Linked DNA regions of Homo sapiens. The gene in region 2 interacts genetically with the main gene of each other region. Each region holds a gene or a part of one and is shown on either strand. Other genes may lie near its edges. The genes, in order: SERPINE1 and KCND3.

The links.
Region 1: changes in KCND3 (region 2) and SERPINE1 together harm fitness more than expected from each alone (negative genetic interaction), as found in Homo sapiens cells (one study listed by BioGRID).

Annotation. Positions count from the first base shown.
Region 1 is NC_000007.14:101,118,733-101,134,709, forward strand, and holds the start of SERPINE1 (plasminogen activator inhibitor 1 isoform 2 precursor), read left to right. Parts: upstream 1-8,371; 5' UTR 8,372-8,512; intron 8,513-9,660; 5' UTR 9,661-9,661; coding exon 9,662-9,932; coding exon of another isoform or gene 9,933-9,956; intron 9,957-11,688; coding exon 11,689-11,922; intron 11,923-13,142; coding exon 13,143-13,337; intron 13,338-14,962; coding exon 14,963-15,161; intron 15,162-15,977. UniProt on the Homo sapiens protein: Serine protease inhibitor. Inhibits TMPRSS7. Is a primary inhibitor of tissue-type plasminogen activator (PLAT) and urokinase-type plasminogen activator (PLAU).
Region 2 is NC_000001.11:111,979,669-111,986,668, forward strand, and holds part of KCND3 (A-type voltage-gated potassium channel KCND3), read right to left. Parts: intron 3,131-7,000; 5' UTR 3,059-3,130; coding exon 1,953-3,058; intron 1-1,952. UniProt on the Homo sapiens protein: Pore-forming (alpha) subunit of voltage-gated A-type potassium channels that mediates transmembrane potassium transport in excitable membranes, in brain and heart. In cardiomyocytes, may generate the transient outward potassium current I(To).

The DNA.
Region 1 (15,977 bases), on a different chromosome or scaffold from region 2:
GCCCAGGCTGGAGTGCAGCAATGCAATTACGGCTCACTGCAGCCTCAAACTCCTGGACTCAAGTGACTCTCCTGTCTTAGCCTCCCAAGAAGCTGGGACTACAGGCACATGCCACCATGCTTGACTCATTTATTTATTTTTTGTAGAGGTTGGGGGGGGGGGTCTCCCTGTGTTGCCCAGGCTGGTCTCGAACTCCTGGCCTCAAGCAATCCTGCCACCTTGGCTTCCTAAAGTGTTGGGATTACAGGCATGAGCCACTGTGCCCGGCCAGGAAGGCTCATTCTTGCCTGATGGTGAAAGGACATTTGGAATACCCACATTACAAAAGACCCAGCACTAAGTGCCCTCAGGAAATAAGACACTTTGATGGCCACATAAGTTTAAATACAGAAATAACTGTAAGACAAGGGAGAATGCAAATATATAAAAGTGATAAAAGCTAAAAATTAGCTGGGTGTGGTCGTGCATGCCTGTGGTCCCAGCTGCTCAGGAGGCTGAGGTGAGAGGATTGTTTGAGCCCAGGAGTTGGAGGCTGCAGTGAGCCATGATCACACAACTGCACTCCAGCCTGGGCAACAAAGTGAGACCCTATCTTAAAAAAAAAAAAAAAAAATAGACTGGGCGCGGTGGCTCATGCCTGTAAACCCAGCACTTCGGGAAGCTGAGGTGGGAAGATCAGTTGAGCTCAGGAGTTTGAGACCAGCCTGGCCAACATGGTGAAACCCTGTCTCTACTAAAAATCCAAAAATTAGTTGGGCATGTTTGTGCAGGCCTGTAGTCCCTGCTACTCAGGAGGCTGAGGCACGAGAATTGCTTGAACCCGTGAGGTGGAGGTTGCAGTGAGCTGAGATCGCGTCACTGCATTCTAGCTTGGGTGACTGAGTGAGACTCTGTCTCAAAAAAAAAAAAAGATAAAATTGGCTATGGTAGAGCATACATTTTTTTTAAGTGATTAAAGCATTATAGGTGCCATAGAGGAATCGATGAGAGATGGGAGATGGAGGCTGCAGGGGCCTAGCCTGGAAGAGTGGGTCGAGCTCAACTCCATTTTGGTAAATCAAGTCTCCTTCCTCCCTGGTATGCTCAGAAAATAAGGATACACTTGGGACAAAAGCGGGGTACATCCATGACCTGCAGCCCAGAGGGGAATATCTTCCTGGGATCTGAAACCTGCAAAGTCAGCCAATGGGAGCGTGTCAGGACCAGGGAGACAGCAGAAGGATCTGGTATGAAACAGATGAGAGGGGCTGCCAGGCATCCCCTCGGGTAAGCAGCCAGCCCACTTCCGAGGCATTTAACGCCCACGCTCCGCTAAATGCTGAGAGACGTAAAAACAAACACCTCAAACATCCATCCCTCAAGGAGCTTGCATTATATCAAAATGAACAGCTCAGACTGTCTGGGTTCCTGTCCTGGCTCTGCTGCCCACCAAGAGCGGCTGCCACAAAGGAGAACATTTGTTCTTGCCAAATGTGTTGGACATTTGGCAGATGACGTTTTATGTAATTCTCATTGCAACCTTGAAAGATGGGAATCGTTATCTGTCTTTTACAAATAAGAATACTGAGGCTGTGATCCCTAAATCATAGGGAAGGAAGGAAGGGAGGGAGGGGGAGGGGAGGAAGAGGAGGAGGAAGAGAAGGAGAAGGAGAAGGGATTAAGTTTTACCTAGTCACATAGCCAATGTCAGATTCCTAACTAGTGGCCGGGTCTGTCTGATCCAATGATCACTATTCTCTCATTTATGGTGTAGTCACTGTGTGGCTTCAACCACAGTGGACCTCTCTGGACCTAAGTGCCCTCACTTGTAAATTAAAAGAACTGGGTTAGGGCCAGGCATGGTGGCTCATGCCTGTAACCACAGCACTTTGGGAGGCTGAGGCAGGTCGGTCACTTGAGCTCAGGAGTTCAAGAACAGCCTGGGCAACGTGGCAAAACCCCGTCTCTACCAAAAATACAAAAAATTAGCCAGGTGTCATGGTGTACATCTGTGGTCCCAGCTACTGGGAGGCTGAGGTGGGAGGATCACTTAATCCCGGGAGGTAGAGGCTGCAGTAAGCTGAAATGGCACCACTGCACTCCAACCTTGAGCCCAGGAGTTTGAGACTAGCCTGGGCAACATAAAGAGACCCTCATCTCTGAAAAAAAAAAAATTAGGCGGGGCACAGTGGCTCACATCTGTAATCCCAGCACTTTGAGAGGCTGAGGAAGGCGGATCACTTGAGGTCAGGAGTTCAAGACCAGCCTGGCCAACATGGTGAAACCCCGTCTCTACTAAAAATACAAAAATCAGCTGGGCGTGATGGCAGATGCCTGTAATCCCAGCTACTTGGGAGGCTGAAGCACTATAATTGCTTGAGCCTGGGAGGTAGAGGTTGCAGTGAACTGAGACCACACCATTGCACTCCAGCCTGGGCAAGAAGAGCGAAACTTTGTCTCAAAAAAAAAAAAAAAAAAAAAAAAAAATTGGCGGGGCATGGTGGTGCACACCTGTAGTCCCAACTAGCAACTCCTCAGGAGGCTGAGATGGGAGGATCTCTTGAGCCTGGGAGGTCGAAATGCAGTGAGTCATGACTGTGCCAAGGCTGGGAGCCATGATTGTGCCACTGCACTCCCACCTGGGCAACAGAACGTGGCCCCCACTCAAAAAAAAAATGCAATTGTGGACAAGCAAGGGCTACATTGGGTAAGGCAGCACCAGTTAGAGTGTTAGGGAGTTTAAAGAGAAATGACCGGCCAGGGGCTGGCAGGGGAGAGGGGATACAGCAGGAGAGGAGGGGGAAGTCAGTCACAGAGCCAGGGTAAGGAAGGGCCCCTGGACAGGCTGTCCCAGAGCCACGATCTTAAATAAAAGGCAGTGGAGGGCCAGGCGCAGTGGCTCACGCCTATAATCCCAGCACTTTGGAAGGCCGAGGTGGGTGGATCATGAGGTCAGGAGATCGAGACCAGCCTGGACAACATGGGGAAACTAGTCTCTACTAAAAATACAAAAATTAGCCAGGCATGGTGGCGCATGACTATAATCCCAGCTACTCGGGAGGCTGGGGCAGGAGAATCGCTTGAACCTGGGAGGCGGAGGATGCAGTGAGCCAAGATCACACCTCCGCACTCCAGCCTGGGCAACAGAGCAAGACTCCATCTCAAAAAAAAAAAAAAAAAAGGCGGTGGAGACACCCAGCACTGGTTCCCTCCTAGAGAAGGGGAGAGAGCCGAGCCCAAACACAGGCTATTTTTGGAGTTGTGTTGTTTGGAGAGCAACCAAGCCAGAAATAGTGCTGTTAGCAAGACCCTGCCTTCTCCAACCCCCGGCTCTCCCAGTGAAATCACCAGGAATCAGGGAGGCTGGGCCCCACATTCCAGGGAGCCTGTGTAACAGGCAGTGCTCTCTTCCCCACCGGAAGGGCTTGGGAGCTGAGCATTTGACTGTAAAAGGGATTCTGGGATTCCAGAGGGACAGAGGGACTGAGTCAGAGAGAGAGAGAGAGAGAGAGTGGAAATGGGGGGCAACCTCCTGCAGCGGAGGAGAGGGGACAGGAGGGAAGGCTCGGGGAAGAAAGGGTAGGCAGGAGGTCAGAGAGAAGGGAGCAGGAAGCGGGAGGCTCAGAGAGAGAAAGGGAAAGTGAAAAAGAAAGCGGGGAAGACAGAAGCAAAGAGGAAGAGCAGAGATCGGGCCAGAAGGCGGGAGGTCAGGGGGCGATGGGTGGTGGGAAGGCCAGTGTCCACCCAGGGCCCACCAGTGGGTGGGGGACAGAGGGACAGTCATGGAAAATCTGAGTGTGATCTACAGTCACGAACCACCTGCTCAGGGACAGATGGAGACATCTTTCCCAGTAGCTGGAATCAGAACTTTCCCCTGAAATCCACAGCCCGGTAACTCACTCTCTTATCTCTGACCCTCCGGAAGCCAGAGATCTAGCTATTTCATCAGCATGGACTTTTCTTTCTGTGCCCGTGTGACCCCTTACAAAAGAGCTCAAGCTGGAAAGAGAGGATTGGATCAAGAAAGAGAGAACTTAGGATTCAGGGGAAAAGGGGAAAGTGATAACCCCTTGAGTCAGATTCTGAGAAGAGGGTTTCTCTGAGAGGTCGGTGGGGAGCAGCCCGCAGGCAGCTGGACCCTGGTATGGAAGGGCTCGGCTCCTAAGGCAGGTAAGAGAAGGCAGGGCCACGTGCATGAAGTAGAGGCAGGGGTCATGGCCAAGTCTGGGTTCTTTTTATTTATTTATTTTTTTGAGACAATCTTGCTCTTTCGCTCAAGCTGGAGTGCAGTGGTGCAATCTCAGCTCTCTGCAACCTCCACCTCTTGGGTTCAAGAGATTCTCCCACCTCAGGCTCCTGAGTAGCTGGGACTACAGGTACGTGCCGCCATGCCTGGCTAATTTCTGTACTTTTTTTTTTTTAGTAGAGACGGGGTTTCACTCCAAGTCTGGGTTCTAGAGTAGCTAGGCAGCCCCAGCTCATCAGAGTCAATGGAGAAATCGGAAACTTCACATGGACCCGATAACACAGGTTTTGCCTCAGTTTCTAATACACATCTTCCCTATGCCTACAAGTTTCCACCGATTTGGGAAAAGACCTCTTAGTAAGTCAGCCACTTCTGAGTCCAAAGTAAAACGCTCCCCACCCTCCACCCCAATCAGGACTAGAGCTGCTCCCCAGCTCTCCCGTGCCCAAGGATGGAATGTCCTTTTTGCTCTTTGCTTTGTCCTTTGAGACAGGGTCTCTCTTTGTCACCCAGGCTGGAGTGCAGTGTTGCAATCATAGCTCACTCCAGCCTTGAGCTCCTAGGCTCAAGCGATCCTCCTACCTCAGCTTCCCATGTAGCTGGGACCATAGGCACACGCCACCACACTGGGCTAATTTTTTTTTTTTTTTTGGTAGAGATGGGATCTCACTGTGTTGCCCAGGCTGGCTCAAATTCCTGGGCTCAAGTGATCTTCCTGCCTCAGCCTCCCCAAAGACTGGGATTACAGGTGTGAGCCACCACACCCAGCAGGGGTGTCTATTTTGGATTGGCATCAGGATCATCCACCCAATCTATGAGTGGGGACTAAATTGGTGACTGCTCCTGCAGAGCTCTGGCTGTCCACAGAAAACAGCAGAGACCTGGCAAGGTATGGGACAATGGCTCCTGGTATGACAGGCAGAGGAAGGGATGGAGGCTAAGCTGCAGCCTGGAGAGGCTGGCGTCAGACACCTGAGGAGGCCACATCTAGCTATGTCTAGACCCATTGAACTTTCAAGTCTTCGAGGCTTGGTACTGCCTGATCCCTGTTCCCCTCTGATCCTTAAGGTCAGAGAGCAAAGCCTTGCGGGGTACTTTTTTTTTTTTTTTTTTTGAGACAGATTCTTGCTCTGTCACCCAGGCTGGAGTGCAATAGCATGATCTCGGCTCACTGCAACCTCCACCTCCCAGGTTCAAGCGATTCTCCTGCCTCAGCCTCCCAAGCAGCTAGGATTACAGGCACGCACCACCATGCCTAGCTGATTTTTATATTTTTAGTAGAGATGGGGTTTCATCATATTGGCCGGGCTGGTCTTGAACTCCTGGCCTCAAGTGATCCACCTGCCTTGGCCTCCCGAAGTGCTAGGATTACAGGTGTGAGCCACCATGCCCTGTCTTGGGGTACTTTTGAGGACAAGAGTTAAGTTCGGGACTGGGCATGTTGGCTTATACACTTTGGGAGGCAAAGGTGAGAGGATTGTTCCAGCCCAGGAATTTGAGACCAGCCTGGTCAACATAGCAAGACTCTGTCTCTATAAGAAAAAATAATAATTAGCTGGGCGTGGTGGTGCTTGCCTGTAGTCCCCGATACTTGCTTGAGCCCAGGAGTTCAAGTCTGCAGTGAGCTATGATCACATGACTGCACTCCAGCCTTGGTGACAGAGTGAGACCCTGTCTCCAAAAAAAAAAAAAAAAAGAGATGGGTTTGGGGCTGGACTTGTCTTCTTCCAAGAGGTCAGGGCAGTTGCTTCTTCCTCACCGCTAACCACACTCTCAGGGACTCCAAACCACAACTAAGAAAAGGAAAAAGACATAAACAAGAGGCAGTTTCACAGGAAGAGTTCTCCTAATGTGTCTGTGAGCCTAACTTTCCGACTGTGGTTCTCCTCTCTTTCCCTGCCAGCTGTGAGAAAACAAAGCCTAAGGCAGATTAAAAAGCAGGAGGGCTGCTCAGTGTGGTTGCCCTTGGTATCTGTTTACTGAAAAAATCCAAAACAAACATCCGACGCTTCCACCCACTGAAACTTCCTGTGACTCTGCTATCAGCTGTTGCCATGGATTCTCCCAACTGAACCCCACCACATACACTAAACCCAACAGTCCGTGGACCCCAAGTATGCCATCTCTCCAATACAGGACCCCCTGGGCAGCACCCTGGCCACCCTTCCATCCACAACATCCAGACCACACGGCCAAGGGCACCTGACCCTGTCAAAACCCCAAATCCAGCTGGGCGCGGTGGCTCATGCCTGTAATCCCAGCATTTGGGAGGCCGAGGCAGCCGGATCACGAAGTCAGGAGTTCGAGACCAGCCTGACCAACATGGTGAAACCCCGTCTCTACTAAAATACAAAAATTAGCCGGGCGTGGTGGTGCACACCTGTAATCCCAGCTACTCGGGAGGCTGAGGCAGGAGAACCACTTGAACCTGGGAGGCGGAGATTGCAGTGAGCCAAGATAGTGCTACTGCACTCAGCCTGGGCAACAAAATAAGACTCCGTCTCAAAACAGAAAAACAAAAAAAACAAAAAACAACAACAACAACAAAATCCACTAGTCTAGCCCTACATGCTCACCCACTGCTAGCCAGTTTCCACCCTCTACAGCAGAGGTACCCAACCTCTGGGCCAGGGGCCCGTACTGGTCCATAGCCTGTTAGGAACCAGGCTGCATAACAGGAGGTGAGTGGCAGGTGAGTGAAATTTCATCTGTAGTTACAGCCACTCCTCATCACTCGCATTACCACCAGAGCTCCACTCCCTGTCAGATCAGCGGCGGCATTAGATTCTCATAGGAGCTCGAACCCTATTCTAAACTGTTCATGTGAGGGATCTAGGTTGCAAGCTCCCTATGAGAATCTAATGCCTGATGATCTGTCACGGTCTCCCATCACCCCTAGATGGGACCATCTAGTTGCAGGAAAACAAGCTCAGGGCTCCCACTGATTCTACACGATGGTGAATTGTGGAATTATTTCATTATATATATTACAATGTAATAATAATAGAAATAAAGCACACAATAAATGTAATGTGCTTGAATCATCCCGAAACCATCCCACCCTGGTCTGTGAAAAAATTGTCTTCCATGAAACCAGTCCCTGGTGCCAAAAACGTTGAGGACCACTGCTCCACAGAATCTATCGGTCACTCTTCCTCCCCTCACCCCCTTGCCCTAAAAGCACACCCTGCAAACCTGCCATGAATTGACACTCTGTTTCTATCCCTTTTCCCCTTGTGTCTGTGTCTGGAGGAAGAGGATAAAGGACAAGCTGCCCCAAGTCCTAGCGGGCAGCTCGAAGAAGTGAAACTTACACGTTGGTCTCCTGTTTCCTTACCAAGCTTTTACCATGGTAACCCCTGGTCCCGTTCAGCCACCACCACCCCACCCAGCACACCTCCAACCTCAGCCAGACAAGGTTGTTGACACAAGAGAGCCCTCAGGGGCACAGAGAGAGTCTGGACACGTGGGGAGTCAGCCGTGTATCATCGGAGGCGGCCGGGCACATGGCAGGGATGAGGGAAAGACCAAGAGTCCTCTGTTGGGCCCAAGTCCTAGACAGACAAAACCTAGACAATCACGTGGCTGGCTGCATGCCCTGTGGCTGTTGGGCTGGGCCCAGGAGGAGGGAGGGGCGCTCTTTCCTGGAGGTGGTCCAGAGCACCGGGTGGACAGCCCTGGGGGAAAACTTCCACGTTTTGATGGAGGTTATCTTTGATAACTCCACAGTGACCTGGTTCGCCAAAGGAAAAGCAGGCAACGTGAGCTGTTTTTTTTTTCTCCAAGCTGAACACTAGGGGTCCTAGGCTTTTTGGGTCACCCGGCATGGCAGACAGTCAACCTGGCAGGACATCCGGGAGAGACAGACACAGGCAGAGGGCAGAAAGGTCAAGGGAGGTTCTCAGGCCAAGGCTATTGGGGTTTGCTCAATTGTTCCTGAATGCTCTTACACACGTACACACACAGAGCAGCACACACACACACACACACATGCCTCAGCAAGTCCCAGAGAGGGAGGTGTCGAGGGGGACCCGCTGGCTGTTCAGACGGACTCCCAGAGCCAGTGAGTGGGTGGGGCTGGAACATGAGTTCATCTATTTCCTGCCCACATCTGGTATAAAAGGAGGCAGTGGCCCACAGAGGAGCACAGCTGTGTTTGGCTGCAGGGCCAAGAGCGCTGTCAAGAAGACCCACACGCCCCCCTCCAGCAGCTGAATTCCTGCAGCTCAGCAGCCGCCGCCAGAGCAGGACGAACCGCCAATCGCAAGGCACCTCTGAGAACTTCAGGTAGGAGAAAAGCAAACTCCCTCCAACCTCTTACTTCGGGCTTAAGGCAGAGAACTCGCCTCCCCAGAATCTCCTCCCTCCATGATCCCCCGCTATTCCTCTATTTTCTTTTCCTCGGACCTGCAGCCTTGGGTCGACCCTGCCCTAGGGGTGACTGCAGGAGAGCAGGGAGGATGGTCAGGCGTCACCAACAACCCCATCACCCAGTAACAAGAACCTTGACTCTCTCAGTCCCTCTGCATCAAGACACTTACCCATTTCCCACCTCATGCCTGCTAACTTGAATGAAACAATCGCTGGGAAAGCATTAAGAGAATTAAGGCTGGGCACTGTGGCTCATGCCTGTAATCCCAGCACTTTGTGAGGCTGAGGCAGGCAGATAACTTGAGCCCAGGAGTTTGAGACCAGCCTGGGCAACATGGCAAAACCCTGCTCTCCCAAAAAAATACAAAAATTAGCTGGGCGTGCTGGTGTGCCTGTATTCCCAGCTACTTGGGAGGCTGAGGTGGGAGGATTGCTTCAGCTGGGGAGGCGGAGGCTGCAGGGAGCCAAGACTGAGCCATTGCACCCAGCCTGGGTGACAGAGCAAGACCCTGTCTCTAAAAATGAATGAAAGGAAGGAAGAAAGAGAGAGAAAGAGAGAGAGGAAAGAAGGAAGGAAGTAAAGAAGAAAGAAAGAAAGAAAGAGGAAAGAGGAAGAAAGAAAGAAAAGAAAGAAAAGAAAAGAAAGCAAATTTAAAGCTTATGCAAATCAAAGATGTTGTGATAATTGATAATTGAGTCTGGGCTAAATTCCCCCTGGGCTGCAAAGGCAGAGAGTGGTAATGACTTCTCACCTGCTTTTCTTCTAAGGCTTTTTTACGGGACACAGAGGGAAGGGAGATGGACTGGATTCCAAGATTCCCACAGGGCAAGATGGGCGAAGACTCCCTGCCACTGCCCGGGGATAAGTCAGTCTGAGTGAGACGGAGTGGGATGGGCTTAGAACCTGAACATGTCATGGTCTCTTCCTGCACCTTGCCCTAGTGTTCACTTACCACCTGCTTGCAGGAAACAAGAAGAGCAGGGCCCACAGCTGGCCAGCTCCCCTCCCCTCCCGCCTGTCTTCCAGAACGATTCCTTCACCAGCCCTCTTTCCATTGCTCTAGGATGCAGATGTCTCCAGCCCTCACCTGCCTAGTCCTGGGCCTGGCCCTTGTCTTTGGTGAAGGGTCTGCTGTGCACCATCCCCCATCCTACGTGGCCCACCTGGCCTCAGACTTCGGGGTGAGGGTGTTTCAGCAGGTGGCGCAGGCCTCCAAGGACCGCAACGTGGTTTTCTCACCCTATGGGGTGGCCTCGGTGTTGGCCATGCTCCAGCTGACAACAGGAGGAGAAACCCAGCAGCAGATTCAAGCAGCTATGGGATTCAAGATTGATGGTGAGCCACGGGACACCAGGGGAGGTGGGTGGCATGCAGAACAGACCTACCAGAAGCCAAGGAAAGGCTGGCTCTGGCTTAGCCGAGCCAAGCCCCATACAGCTGTGCTGCAGGGGCCACCCCATCTTCTTCCCACTACACTCCAAGTCACTGGACCCTTGAATCTCCAAGGGTGTCTGACCAGTAGATTTACCGCTTATTCACCACCGTGTGATCTTAACCTCGTTAAGTTTGCCCATCTACAAAATGAGGATTATTTGCTGTCCTAAAGAATTCATGAGCCGGGCGCGGTGGCTCAAACGCCTGTAATCCCAGCACTTTGGGAGGCCAAGGCGGGCGGATCATGAGGTCAGGAGATCAAGACCATCCTGGCTAACACAGTGAAACTCCATCTCTACTAAAAATACAAAAAAAATTAGCCAGGCGTGGTGGCAGGCGCCTGTAGTCCCAGCTACTCGGGAGGCTGAGGCAGGAGAATGGCATGAACCCAGGAGGCAGAGCTTGCAGTGAGCTGAGATCGTGCCACTGCACTCCAGCCTGGGCGACAGAGAGAGACTCCGTCTCAAAAAAAAAAAATAAAAGAATTCATGGAATTACACTTGTGAAATACTTAGCATAGCCATCACTATAGGAAAAAAATCTAAGGCCAGGCACAGTGCCTCATGCCTGTAATCTCAGCACTTTCGGAGTTTGAGGCAGGAGGATCACCCAAGGCTAGGAGTTCAAGGCCAGCCTGGGCAATACGGTGAAACCCCGTCTCTAATAAAAATATAAAAATTAGTCTGATGAGGTGGTGCACCTGTAATCCCAGCTACTCAGGAAGCTGAGACACAAGAATCACTTTAACCCGGGAGGTGGAGGTGGCAGTGAGCTGAGATCACACCATTGCACTCCAGCCTGGGTGACAGAGTGAGACCTGTCAAAAAAAAGAAAAGAAAGAGAGAGAGAGAGAGAAGAGAGAGAAAGAAAGAAGAAGAAAGAAAGAAAGAGAGAGAGAGAAAGAAAGAAAGAAACAAAGAAACAAAGAAAGAAAGGAAAAGAAAAAAAAAACTAAGGCCAGGCAAGGTGGCTTATGACTGTAATTTCAGCACTTTGGAAGATTGAGGCAGGAGGATCACTTGAGGCCAGAAGTTCGAGACAAGACTGAGCAACAGGGAGACCCCTGCCTCTACAAAAAAATTTACAAATTAGCCAGATGTGGTGACACATACCTGTAGTCCCAACTACTCAGGAGGCTGAGGTGGGAGGATGGCTTGAGCCCAGGAGCTGGAGGCTGCAGTGAGCTATGATTGTACCACTGCACTTCAGCCTGGGCAACAAAGGGAAGCCCTGTCTGAAAAAAAAAAAAAAAGAAAAAGAAGAAGAAAGAAAATATTTAGGGTTCATCCAGGAGGCAGAGGTTGCAGTAAGCTGACATCGCGCCATTGCACTCCAGCCTGGGAGACAAGAGCAAAACTCCAACTCAAAAAAAAAAAAAAAAAAAAAACAGGAAGAAAATATTTAGGGTTCATAATTTAAGAACAGAGAAAAATATTCTAGCCCAAAGAAAGGGTTGGGATCTGAGACTTTTGAAGAAAGGAAGGAGATACAGAAAAGAGATTTCATCCTGGAATGAAATCTCCCTCCAGAGAGCCCTGGGAAAGCACGGTAGCCCCCATCCATCAGAGTGGAGCCCCTTGTGGGGGAAGTGGGCTCGGCTGGGAACCCTCAATTCAGCATAAGCCTCACATGTCCTCTCCTCTCTGTCCCGGTGCAGACAAGGGCATGGCCCCCGCCCTCCGGCATCTGTACAAGGAGCTCATGGGGCCATGGAACAAGGATGAGATCAGCACCACAGACGCGATCTTCGTCCAGCGGGATCTGAAGCTGGTCCAGGGCTTCATGCCCCACTTCTTCAGGCTGTTCCGGAGCACGGTCAAGCAAGTGGACTTTTCAGAGGTGGAGAGAGCCAGATTCATCATCAATGACTGGGTGAAGACACACACAAAAGGTGAGCAGGCAGGGAAAGGAAACCCATTTCCTGGGCCTCAAGAGAAAGGGAATTTGGAAATAAATCCACATATCCCAGTTGGGTGCAGTAGTTCACACCTGTAATCCCAGCCCAACACTTTGGGAGGTCTAGGCGAGAGGAAGGCTTGAGGCCTGGAGTTTGAGACCAGCCTGGCCAACATAACAAGACCTCATCTCTTCAAAAAATTTAAAAACCAGCCGGGCATGGTGGTGCACACCTGTAGTCCCAGCTACTTGGGAGGCTGAGGTGGGAGGATCACTTGAGTCCAGCAGTTCAAGGCTGCAGTGAGCTATGTTTGCACCACCACACTCCAGCCTGGGTCACAGAACAAGACCTCATCTCTAAAAAACAAACAAAAACCAAATCCACATATCCTAAAAAATGCTCCTTTTCAGCATTCTCTTCTCTATGGACAAAGGGCTGGATGCTTTAAGAACCAAATCTTAGGCTGGGCACGGTGGCTCACGCCTCTAATCCTAGCACTTTGAGAGGCCAAGGCGGGCAGATTGCCTGAGCACAGGAGTTCGAGACCAGCCTGGCCAACATGGTGAAACCCTGTCTCTGTCAAAAATACAAAAAATTAGCCAGGTGTGTTGGCGCATGCCTATAATCCCAGCTGCTCGGGAGGATGAGGTTCAAAGAATCACTTGAACCCGGGAGGCAGAGGCTGCAGTGAGCTGAGATCATGCCACTGCACTCCAGCCTGGGTGACAGAGCAAGACTTTGTCTCCAAAAAAAGGAACTAGACGGGTTCATTTAAACCCCTGACTGCAGCCCTTTGACATACATCCAATTGAGGACTGGGGACTCCGGGAAACATCTAAAAGGCTTAAAAACTTTGTCTAACTTCAGCCGGGCATGGTGGCTCACACCTGTAATCCCAGCACTTTGGGAGGCTAAGGCAGGTGGATCAAAAGGTCAGGAGTTTGAGACGAGCCTGACCAACATGGTGAAACCCCGTCTCTACTAAAAATACAAAAATTAGCCAGGCATGGTGGCAGGCGCCTGTAATCCCAGCTATTCGGGAGGCTGAGGCAGGAGAATTGCTTGAACCCCGGAGACAGAGGTTGCAGCGAGCCGAGATCGCGCCACTGCACTCCAGCCTGGCAATAGAGTGAGACTCCATCTCAAAACAACAACAACAACAACAACAAAATCGTCTAACTTCCTGATCTTCCTGATCATTGATTTTCCCATAGGTATGATCAGCAACTTGCTTGGGAAAGGAGCCGTGGACCAGCTGACACGGCTGGTGCTGGTGAATGCCCTCTACTTCAACGGCCAGTGGAAGACTCCCTTCCCCGACTCCAGCACCCACCGCCGCCTCTTCCACAAATCAGACGGCAGCACTGTCTCTGTGCCCATGATGGCTCAGACCAACAAGTTCAACTATAGTAAGTCCAAGAGCCCCTTCCCCACAGCCCACAGCAACTGCATCTCATTCCTGGGGTCTCCCAAGGAATACCCAAAATGTCACCCTCTGAGGGAGGAAGACCACAGGGAATGCTCCCCTTTAAGGGAGGAGAGACCCTAGAATATACTCCAGCTTTGACAAAGATTTCCCAAGCAGGAGACATCAGGATAATGGGAACAGAAGACAGGAGGTTTATCCCATGAAGGATGAAGAAGCTGAAATCCAGAGATTCCCTCAGGGCCACATTTGTCCACCTGACTCCAGGGTCTCATCTTCGTGTGTTGCTAGTGTGATTACCTGGGGATGAGAAATCCTGCTGGGGGAGTTGAGGTTAAGAGGATGAGGACTCCAGGTGCTGTGGCTCACGCCTGTAATCCCAGCACTTTGGGAGGCCAAGGCAGGTGGATCAGGAGTTTGAGGTCAGGAGTTTGAGACCAGCCTGGCCAACATGGTGAAACCCTGTCTCTACTAAAAATGCAAAAATTAGCCAGGTGTGGTGGCAGGCGCCTGTAATCCCAGCTACTCGGGAGGCTGAGGCAGGAGAATCACTTGAGCCCGGGAGGTGGAGGTTGCAGTGAGCCGAACGAAATTGAGCCACTTCACCCCAGCCTGGGCAAAAGAGTGAAATTCCATTCAAAAAAAAAAAAAAAAAAAAAAGGATGAGGACTGGGATGAACTGGTGGCTGGGTGTGGGGAAAATGGAAGTGAAGGAAGGCCAAAAGAGACAGAGAAGGCCTGGCGCGGCGACTCACGCCTATAATCCCAGCACTTTGGGAGGCTGAGAAGGGGGATTGCTTGAGGCCAGAAGTTGAATACCAGTCTGGGCAGCATAGCAAGACCCTGCCTCTACAAAAAAAAAATTTTTTTTAATTAGCCAGGCTTGGTGACATGCATCTGTAGTCTACTCAAGAAGCTGAGGTGAGGCCAGGCACGGTGGCTCACGCCTGTATTCCCAGCACTTTGGGAGGTCAAGGCGGGTGGATGACCTGAGGTCAGGAGTTCAAGACCAGCCTGGCCAACATGGTGAAACCCCATCTGTATAAAAATACAAAAATTAGCTGGGCATGATAGCAGGTGCCTGTAATTCCAGCTACTCAGGAGGCTGAGGTGGGAGAATCTATTGAACCCGGGAGGGGGAGGTTGCAGTGAGCCGAGATCATGCCATTGCACTCCAGCCTGGGCGACAGAGTGAGACTCCTTCTCAAAACAAACAAACAAACAAACAAACAAAATACAGAAGCTGAGGCGGGAGGAACATTTGAACCGGATTCGGAGGCTGCAGTGAGCTATGATTGCACCACTGCGCTCCAGTCTGTGTGACAGTGAGACCCTGTCTCTTACACACACACACACACACACACACATGCACACACACAGAGAGAGAGAAATTAGAAGATACTGAATTGGCAGAAGAGAAGGGAAATAGAAATTAAAATACTGAATAGGGGAGCAGTGAACAGGGGATACCCAAAAGCCAAGAGCGAGAGAGAGCCTGGCTTCCAGAAATAGTGGAGAAGCCAGGAGAACTAGGTGAAAACCCAGTGCTGGGTTGCCATCAGCGAGAGCTGGAGCCATTTCCAACGAACCATCTTGTCGTCTTCACAGCTGAGTTCACCACGCCCGATGGCCATTACTACGACATCCTGGAACTGCCCTACCACGGGGACACCCTCAGCATGTTCATTGCTGCCCCTTATGAAAAAGAGGTGCCTCTCTCTGCCCTCACCAACATTCTGAGTGCCCAGCTCATCAGCCACTGGAAAGGCAACATGACCAGGCTGCCCCGCCTCCTGGTTCTGCCCAAGTAAGCCACCCCGCTATCTCCCCGACCTACCAACCCCTCTCTCCTGGCTCCCTAAAGTCACCGCCCCCAGGTTGAATTTCCCAGATCTGTGATGCTTGCAGGACATGCATGTGTGGGAGGCTGATGGGAAACTGTGGCCTGGGTTTGATTATGAGTCTTGCAATCATCCCTCCCCCTGTTTCTGCTGGAGGGCAGGGGACAGCTCTTCCTGACCACACCCCCACATTGACTATCCCCAGAATACCCAGCAAAAGCCCCCAAAAGGAGAGTCAGAGAAATGAGGGAGGTGGGGGCCCAATCAGTCCACATCTACTTAGGGTCGCCCCATCAGCACTTCCATCCCCAACCCTTTCAAGTCAACATCCAAACAAAAGAAATCACTTCCAAGGACGGAGCAGCTCAAAGCGCAGCTTCTAGCTGGGGTTCCAAGAAAGCAGATTTTTCGAAATCCTTCTGCAGAAGGAAGCAAAGAGATTTTTTGAAATCTTTCTGCAGAAGGAGAAGGCTGGAGCTGGGGAACTCCAGAATTATAGGGAAGCCTCCCACCACGCTCATCCCAAATTTCCGGATGCTATAATGCCAGGCTTGGGGAAAGAGGAGAATTTAGTTGGTTAGCTGGTGCGTGCTCTCACTTGCATCCTCTCTCTTCCTCTTTTTTTTTTTTCTCCTCTCTCTCTGGCTCATAAAAATGGAGGTAATTAGTTGTGCCCTGGTGAGAAGCAGAGAGTGCACAAAGGCCCCCTGCTTGAGTCCTCTTCAGGGTTAGCTCTCAGAAACACAATCTGCAGAACAGATTTTTGTTCCAACATCCTTGCA
Region 2 (7,000 bases):
TATAGTCTCTCTGAGCCTCAGCTTCTGCATCTTTATAGGGTACAGAATTTTTTCCAACCTTGCAGGGCTGTTGTAAAAACTTAAAGAGATAATATATGCAAAGTTCTTAGTACACTGCTGACATATAGTAGACAATCATATGCTGTTATACTACTAATAAAAAGTAATGAGTAGGTGGCTATCACCATGCCTGTTTTCCTCCACATGGCTATCCTGAAGGATCTCTCTGATGTCATGAGTCCCATCAAGGGGCATCTGAGGGCACTGGGCAGTCAGAGCCACATCAGGAGCTTGACTAGAAGTGGAAGTGAGGTGTCTGGCCATGGGTGAGGTCCCCTTCAGGAAGGTGAAGGGATGGCTAGGGTCAGCCTAAAAGGGATAAAGACGACCTCTTGACAGCACAAGCTCTCCAGTCCATTTTATCTCCAAAATACCCCACTGTGCCAAAAAGCCCACATCTGCCACCTGAGCCAAGAGAAACAAGGTCAAATGACCAAACATTCTTACCCACTCTGGGTGAGCAGCCATTTGAAGAGTGTGTGTGTGTGTGTGTGTGTGTGTGTGTGTGTGGGTTGGAGTGGGAGGAAGGGGCAGGGTGGTTCTGTCAGACAGATAAGAAGTAAAGGGAATGCCCCAATCAAATGTGGCCTTCACAAATGGATGGTGACACCCTTGCTCTTCCCCTTGCTACTCCCTCCCTCTTGTGTGTGGCAGAATGACAAATGTAATCATTTTAAAAGGTCTCGTCACCTGCTCAGTCATTCCCAATAAGCATACGCAGCACTATGGAAAAACCAACACTATTGCCTCTGGGTTTTGGCCAGGAAAAAAAAAAATCAAATCACCAGGACACCACCAACCACACTGTCAAAGACAAAATAAAAAGCTTCATGAATTCTCCATCAGCAATATAACGCTTCCTAGCCTAAGCAAATATAGACCCAGTATATGAATTGTGGAGGGATTTTGCATTAGGCTCCATGGTTTCTAATAGCTGAGGCAGAAACCCCTAAGAAATCTATGTTTCCATAAAGCCACCTTTATTGGCTATAATCCTGCTAGGGTGAAGACTGTAATCTCCTTCCTGAGCCCCCTTCCTCTGATGGAAAGCTTCACATCCCAGCATCATGAATACATTTCTGTGACCTCAGCTGGAGAGGAGACCTCGGAGAGACGGAATTACCATGACCTCACCGAGCACCTGTCCCTCCTTCTGATGATATTGCTGCTTCTGTGTCTGACCACATGATCCATTCAGACCATCTCACAGTCACCCAGGTCATTCAATCACTGACTCAGACTAAAAAGCAAGACTGATACTGCTTTAGAAAGAAAGAATAAACCACGTGCCTTACTGCGAAAAATCCAGGTTCAGAGTCACTTAGAGAAAGTCTGCTCAGAGCTACTGAACGCTTGAGTGTCTGTGGCAGCACAGGAGAAAAGCATAACAAATGGGAAAATGGCCTGCAAAATATACTACAAAGAAAAAATGCAGAAAGGATCCAAAAAGAGTGCTCTTGGTGTCTTCTGGTAATGGACATCTGAACCCTCCGAACTTCTCAACAGTCTCCTCCCTCCCCAACAACTGCCCTGACCTTCTCCCCACGCTGCCCCATATGCGCAAATGCATATACAAATGCAGACATCACCTCACCCCGAGACTTCACACGCACACAAGGCATGGCTGAAAAAAGAATTGGTGACTTAATTTTCTTAGCTCTATAAAACACATGCCCCGACCTCAAAAAGAAAACTCAATTCCCAGCAAGCTACCACCCCCAAACAGATGACTCATGGGCTTTACCCTTCGGATAGAGCAACTTCCCCTGCCCCCAACACTTGGGTAAGGGACTCCCTCCTCCTCTACCCATGGTGACACCATCCAAGGTTTCAGAGGTCATCCAGCTGCCCTCCAACCTCCGTCCTGGTTTCATCCACCAGCGCTGACTTACCCCAGTGTGGTCATGGTGACAATGGTGTACCAAAACGAGGCAGGGATGCTTGTGAACTTGCTGGCCGAGGAGCCCTTCTCGGCATAAAACATCACAGTGGCAAAGATGATGATGGCCATGGTGAGGGAGAAGAGAAGAAAGCCCAGTTCGGAGGCACAGCTCTTCAGTGTGTAGCCCAGGATCCGCAGGCCCTGGGAGTGGCGGGAAAACTTGAAGATCCTGAAGACGCGGAAGACCCGGAGCGTGACGAAGGCGCCGGACACGTCCTCGTTGTTGGTCATGACCAGACCGATGTAGTAGGGCATGATGGCCACCACGTCGATGATGCTCATGACGCTGCGGATGAAGCGGTAGCGGCTGGGAGCCGCGAAGAGCCGCAGGAGGTACTCCACGGTGAAGATCATGACGCACGCCGTGTCCAGGCAGAAGAAGGCCACCGAGTAGCGCTCCCCGCACGGCAGCTCCTTGCTGCCCGGGACCGTGCCGCACGGCACCGTCTCCACCACGTTGGTGATGACCGAGACAGCGATGAAGAAGCCAGTCACGTAGTAGAAGACCAGGGCCAGCGTGCTGGTGTGGGGGTTCTCGAAGGCCCGCCACATGGTCTGGCGGAAGCTGAGCGAGGGCATGGACTCCTGGTTGTTCTCCGAGTCGTTGTCGTCCATGAGCCGCTCGGCGTTCTCCCTCTTGCGGTCCTTGTACTCCTCGTAGCAGCAGTCCCCGATGATCTCCGGGAGGATGCCGTAGAAGGCCAGCTCGTCGTCGTAGGCAGAGATGCACTCGTAGCGCGGGTAGTGCAGCTTCCCCGTGCGGTAGAAGTTGAGCACGCAGCGGAACACCTCGGGGTCCCGGTCGAAGAAGTACTCCTTGGTGTCCTCGTTGAAGAAGAACTCCTTCTCCGTGCTGCCCAGCAGGGTGTCCGGGTAGCGCTCCAGCGTGGTCCTCCAGGTCTGGAACCTCCGCCCACTCACGTTGAGGACAATCAGCTCATCCTGCCGCTTGTTCTTGTCGGCCGGGGCCAGGGGCATGGGGCAGTTGGCCACCGGCATCCACCCGATGGCCGCAGCCCGGGCAAAAGGCAGCCAGGCCGCAACTCCGGCCGCCATGGTGACTCCAGCTCTTGGGCCGGCAGCCGCGCGGACGCTAGGCACACCAGCTTGGAGTTAGTTCAGCAAACCCTGGGAGACAGGAGGGGAGAGAGAGAAGCGGTGAGTCCATATCGACTGGCAGGTAAGAAATGGGACACAGGAAAGGATCACTGGTGAGTGAAACGGCCAAAGTCTCCAGGGCAGATTAATAAAACTGAAATCCCCACCACAGAGAGGGGACTTGATTCTTTGCCATCCAGACACTGGGAGAACACCTAGCTCCTGGAGCTCGGCAGGGTGGGATCGCCAGATGTTGCTGACTGCCTGACAAATCGTCAAGCTCCAAGAGGGCTCAAGAGCATTTGGAGGGAAGGCCTCTTTAGCAGGAAGATCTGGCAAGACGTGGGTAATAATCAGCTCTGAAAGGTTATGGCGTTATTACCAATTTAAATTGGGAGAGGGTAGATGAGTTCTCATTAAATGAATTTAAAAGTGGGATAAACATGCTAATTTTTATTTCACTCTTTCACCCACTGGGGTAATCAGGAACGGGGTGTAGATGAGTGAGATCAGGTAAACAATTCTTTCTACTCCTCCCTAGTGAGGAAGAGGCTGGGGCTGCCCAAGTCCAGAAAATTCTCTGAGATGGCAGGTGACCACCAGGATTGGTGAGGTTCTGTCCCCAACTCCCATGGAGAAGGCTCTCCCTGGCAAAGTGCTACTCTGAGGGACACTTAGCCCCTACTCCTTGCCCTAGCAACCTAGTATCAAATTTTTCCCCTCAGACCCTCAGAGCCATGATGGAAAGACGTGGGAAGGGTTGTGAGGCTGGGCAGGGTCTCTTTCCCTGCTCTGTGAAGGGCGTCTTGGCTTCTTGGTTCACCTGACTTCCATGCATCGTCTCTCTCCCTCCCCAGAAGAAGCCGATCCGCGCTCACTGCCGTCCCTAGATTCCTCTCCTCCCATCTCCATCTGCCCACCATCCATAACTCCCTCAGGTTATATAACAACACTCCTTCCCATACCAGCCTCTCTCACCTGGTCCCCACTCCACCCTCAGAGATTTTTCCAGAGCCAGGCTACCCTGTCCCTTCACCTCTCTAAACCACACTGCATAAGCACTTCCCCATTACCTGTGTGGACAGAGGGAGCAATGGCACGGAGAATTATATTTGGCTTTGGGAAGCAGATTTACCTTCCCAAATCTGGCTTTTTAAAGATGATAGTGAAATCACTCTGCAGTCCCCAAATGTATACCATCTGTGGGAAGGCATGTGGTGACACGGAAACACACGTAACAGAAATTGGAAATTGTTTGGGGTTGACACACTCATCTCCACTAATCCTAAACTGATCACACAGAACAAATCCTAACTTGGAATTATTTGGGCCCTCTGGAATTCAGCTGCTGTGATTCTAAGTTTAAATAAACGAGGAAGAGGTGAGTCTTGGAAAATTTTTTCTGTTACACGAAGACTTGTAATGGGAGTCGATCTTCATCTCTCCCTATAAACCTGCTTCACCTTCTCCTGACTCCCAACTCTTTGAGTTTTTTCAGATCTCTACCTCCCTCAAACTCCTGAGCTGCCACTGGACTTTTCTGCTCAGATGCCTCTGAAGTGGACAGGTTTAAACAGAACCTGCCTCCTTGTAAAAAGCTGCTGTTCGCCTTTTCTTCATGACGTCCCTAACTGCAGGGCTGTCACCTTGACCATTTTTCTCTAAAGAGTTGCCAAATAATAGGCAATAGTTCTTACTGCCCTCATGAAGGCCCAAACTCCCTCTGGCCTCCTTCCCACGGGCCTTCTTGTCTCTCACTCTCACACCCCACCCGGTTTCTCCTATTCCCCTGAAATCCATTCTGCTCAGTGTTATCTCCCTAAAGCAAGGTTCTGATTGTATTTTACCCCACGACCTACAAAATAAAGTCCAAACTCCTTGGCCTGGCATTCCAGAATTCCCACAAATAGATCCTAGCTTCATACTCCAGCCCAATGGCCCAGGCACCCATCCTAGTATCCAGCAATAAGACCAAGACCTGTTCATGGACAGACCCTGGGGAGGTCTGCCTCTGGACCACTCCTCCCTCTCATGAGAATATCCTTCCCCTGGACCCCTCCTATTAGAATCCTACCTATTCATCACTCTCTCTGTGATGCTTCCTCCTCTCCTCACTATGAGATTCTCTTCTTCCTTTGGGCTCTTGACTCGTTGTTTGCCCCTCTTCCCTAGCACCTATCACCCCGCAGCTAGGATTACACACACTTTATATACATCTTAATTAATAGTAATGACTAACAATTGAGCACTTACGCTATGCAAGGCATTACACTGTCTCCCATGGATTATCTCATTTAACCCTCACAGCAACCCTAGGAAGAAGAGTCTGTTGTGTCCCCCATTTCATAGATAAGGAAAGCTAAAGCTTACTGAGACATAGCAGTCTGACAACCCCAAAGTGGCAGAATAGGGATTCCATCTCAGGCAGTCTGCTGAGGGCTGATGGTGTGCCAGGCACAGTACCACACACTTACATGGAGCGTCTCAAGAGATCCCACCGACAACCCTGAGGGGTAGACACCACTGTAGGCCATGTTTTGCCCACAAAAGAAAGATGAAGCATAAGGAGTTGTAATAATTGTCTAAAGGATGTAATAAGTAGGCGGCGCCATTAAACCCAGGCAGTCTCAATGTGGAGTTCAAGAGTACAGCCAGACCACTTCCCAACTTTCCCTATCCCACACTAAGCTCTTTCGGGCAAAGGCCGAGATGCCTCCACTTTTGTATCACAACCCAGGAGGCAGCATAGTGAACTGCATCAGTAGGTGCTCGAGCTGGGACCCCTGGTTTTATATGTGCCATTTTTTTTCCCATCAACTTTACTCTATGCCTTGCTAATATATTTCAGGGGTTGCCAAGGGTGAGCGTTCTTTCTCCAGAGTAAAATCTGAAGACAGATCTGAATCAGAAGAATCCAATTCAAGTATCTGCCTCTGACTCACTCAGTCGAGTTTTCTAAAGAAGCCAATCTCTGCCTCAGTTTCCCCATCTGCATGCTAAAGGAAATTGTCACAGGTCCCTTCTCTCCCTAATAAAGGGAGGTTGAGTCAGATGCTGCAGAAGACAATAGGAATGACAATGACATTTCCCGTAAGCGTCACTGCTCAGAGAACAGAAAAACAGCACAGGCCTGATGAGCTGATTACTGGAACTGAGGAACTGAGGAACTGAGGAAAGAATGGAGGTCGTTCATGCATGGCAGTGGGTAATCCACATGCTACTGATAGAAGAGTCAGGAACACATCCTGCATTGTATTTCTTTCTAGAAGAAATTTACCCTTCTAACTATACTTTGTTTAGGATTAGGAGACTTAGTAGTTCCTCAGCATGCACTTAGCTAGGATTTATTTCTAAGGGGCAAGGGATGTTTGAGAAGCAAGCTCACAAGTTCAACTCTGTTCCAATTCAGAGTTGGTTAACATTTATTGAACACTGACAATGCTCTGGACACTGTCTGAGACACTTTTACACACAACATTTAATTTATTCCCACTAAAATCCTATGATAAAGGCTTTTCTGCCCAAAGGTTACAGGTAAGGAGAAGGAAGCTCAGAAGTCTCTTTCAAAGTGGCTAAGTTCTGTGTATATGGGAGCTGACAATTTTCAAACAGACCATTGATCACCTCACTGCCAAATGGCTTTCCTGATCTAGGTGTTGCCCAATACTGATGTTCCCAAGAGAAGACAGCAAGATGCAGAGATTCCTTTCCCTGTCTTCCCCAGGCAGCAATGAGCAAGGGCTCATGAGGCCTTGCAATTCCAGTTTCAGTCCCATCCTCAATTTGTGAAAGCAAGCCATGATCACCCTCTGGGCCTCAGAGTCTTCCTCTGTAAAATGAGAAGAATTGGACAGGAACATGACAAAAGACCCTTTGGCTCAAATGATCCCTGATTCCACT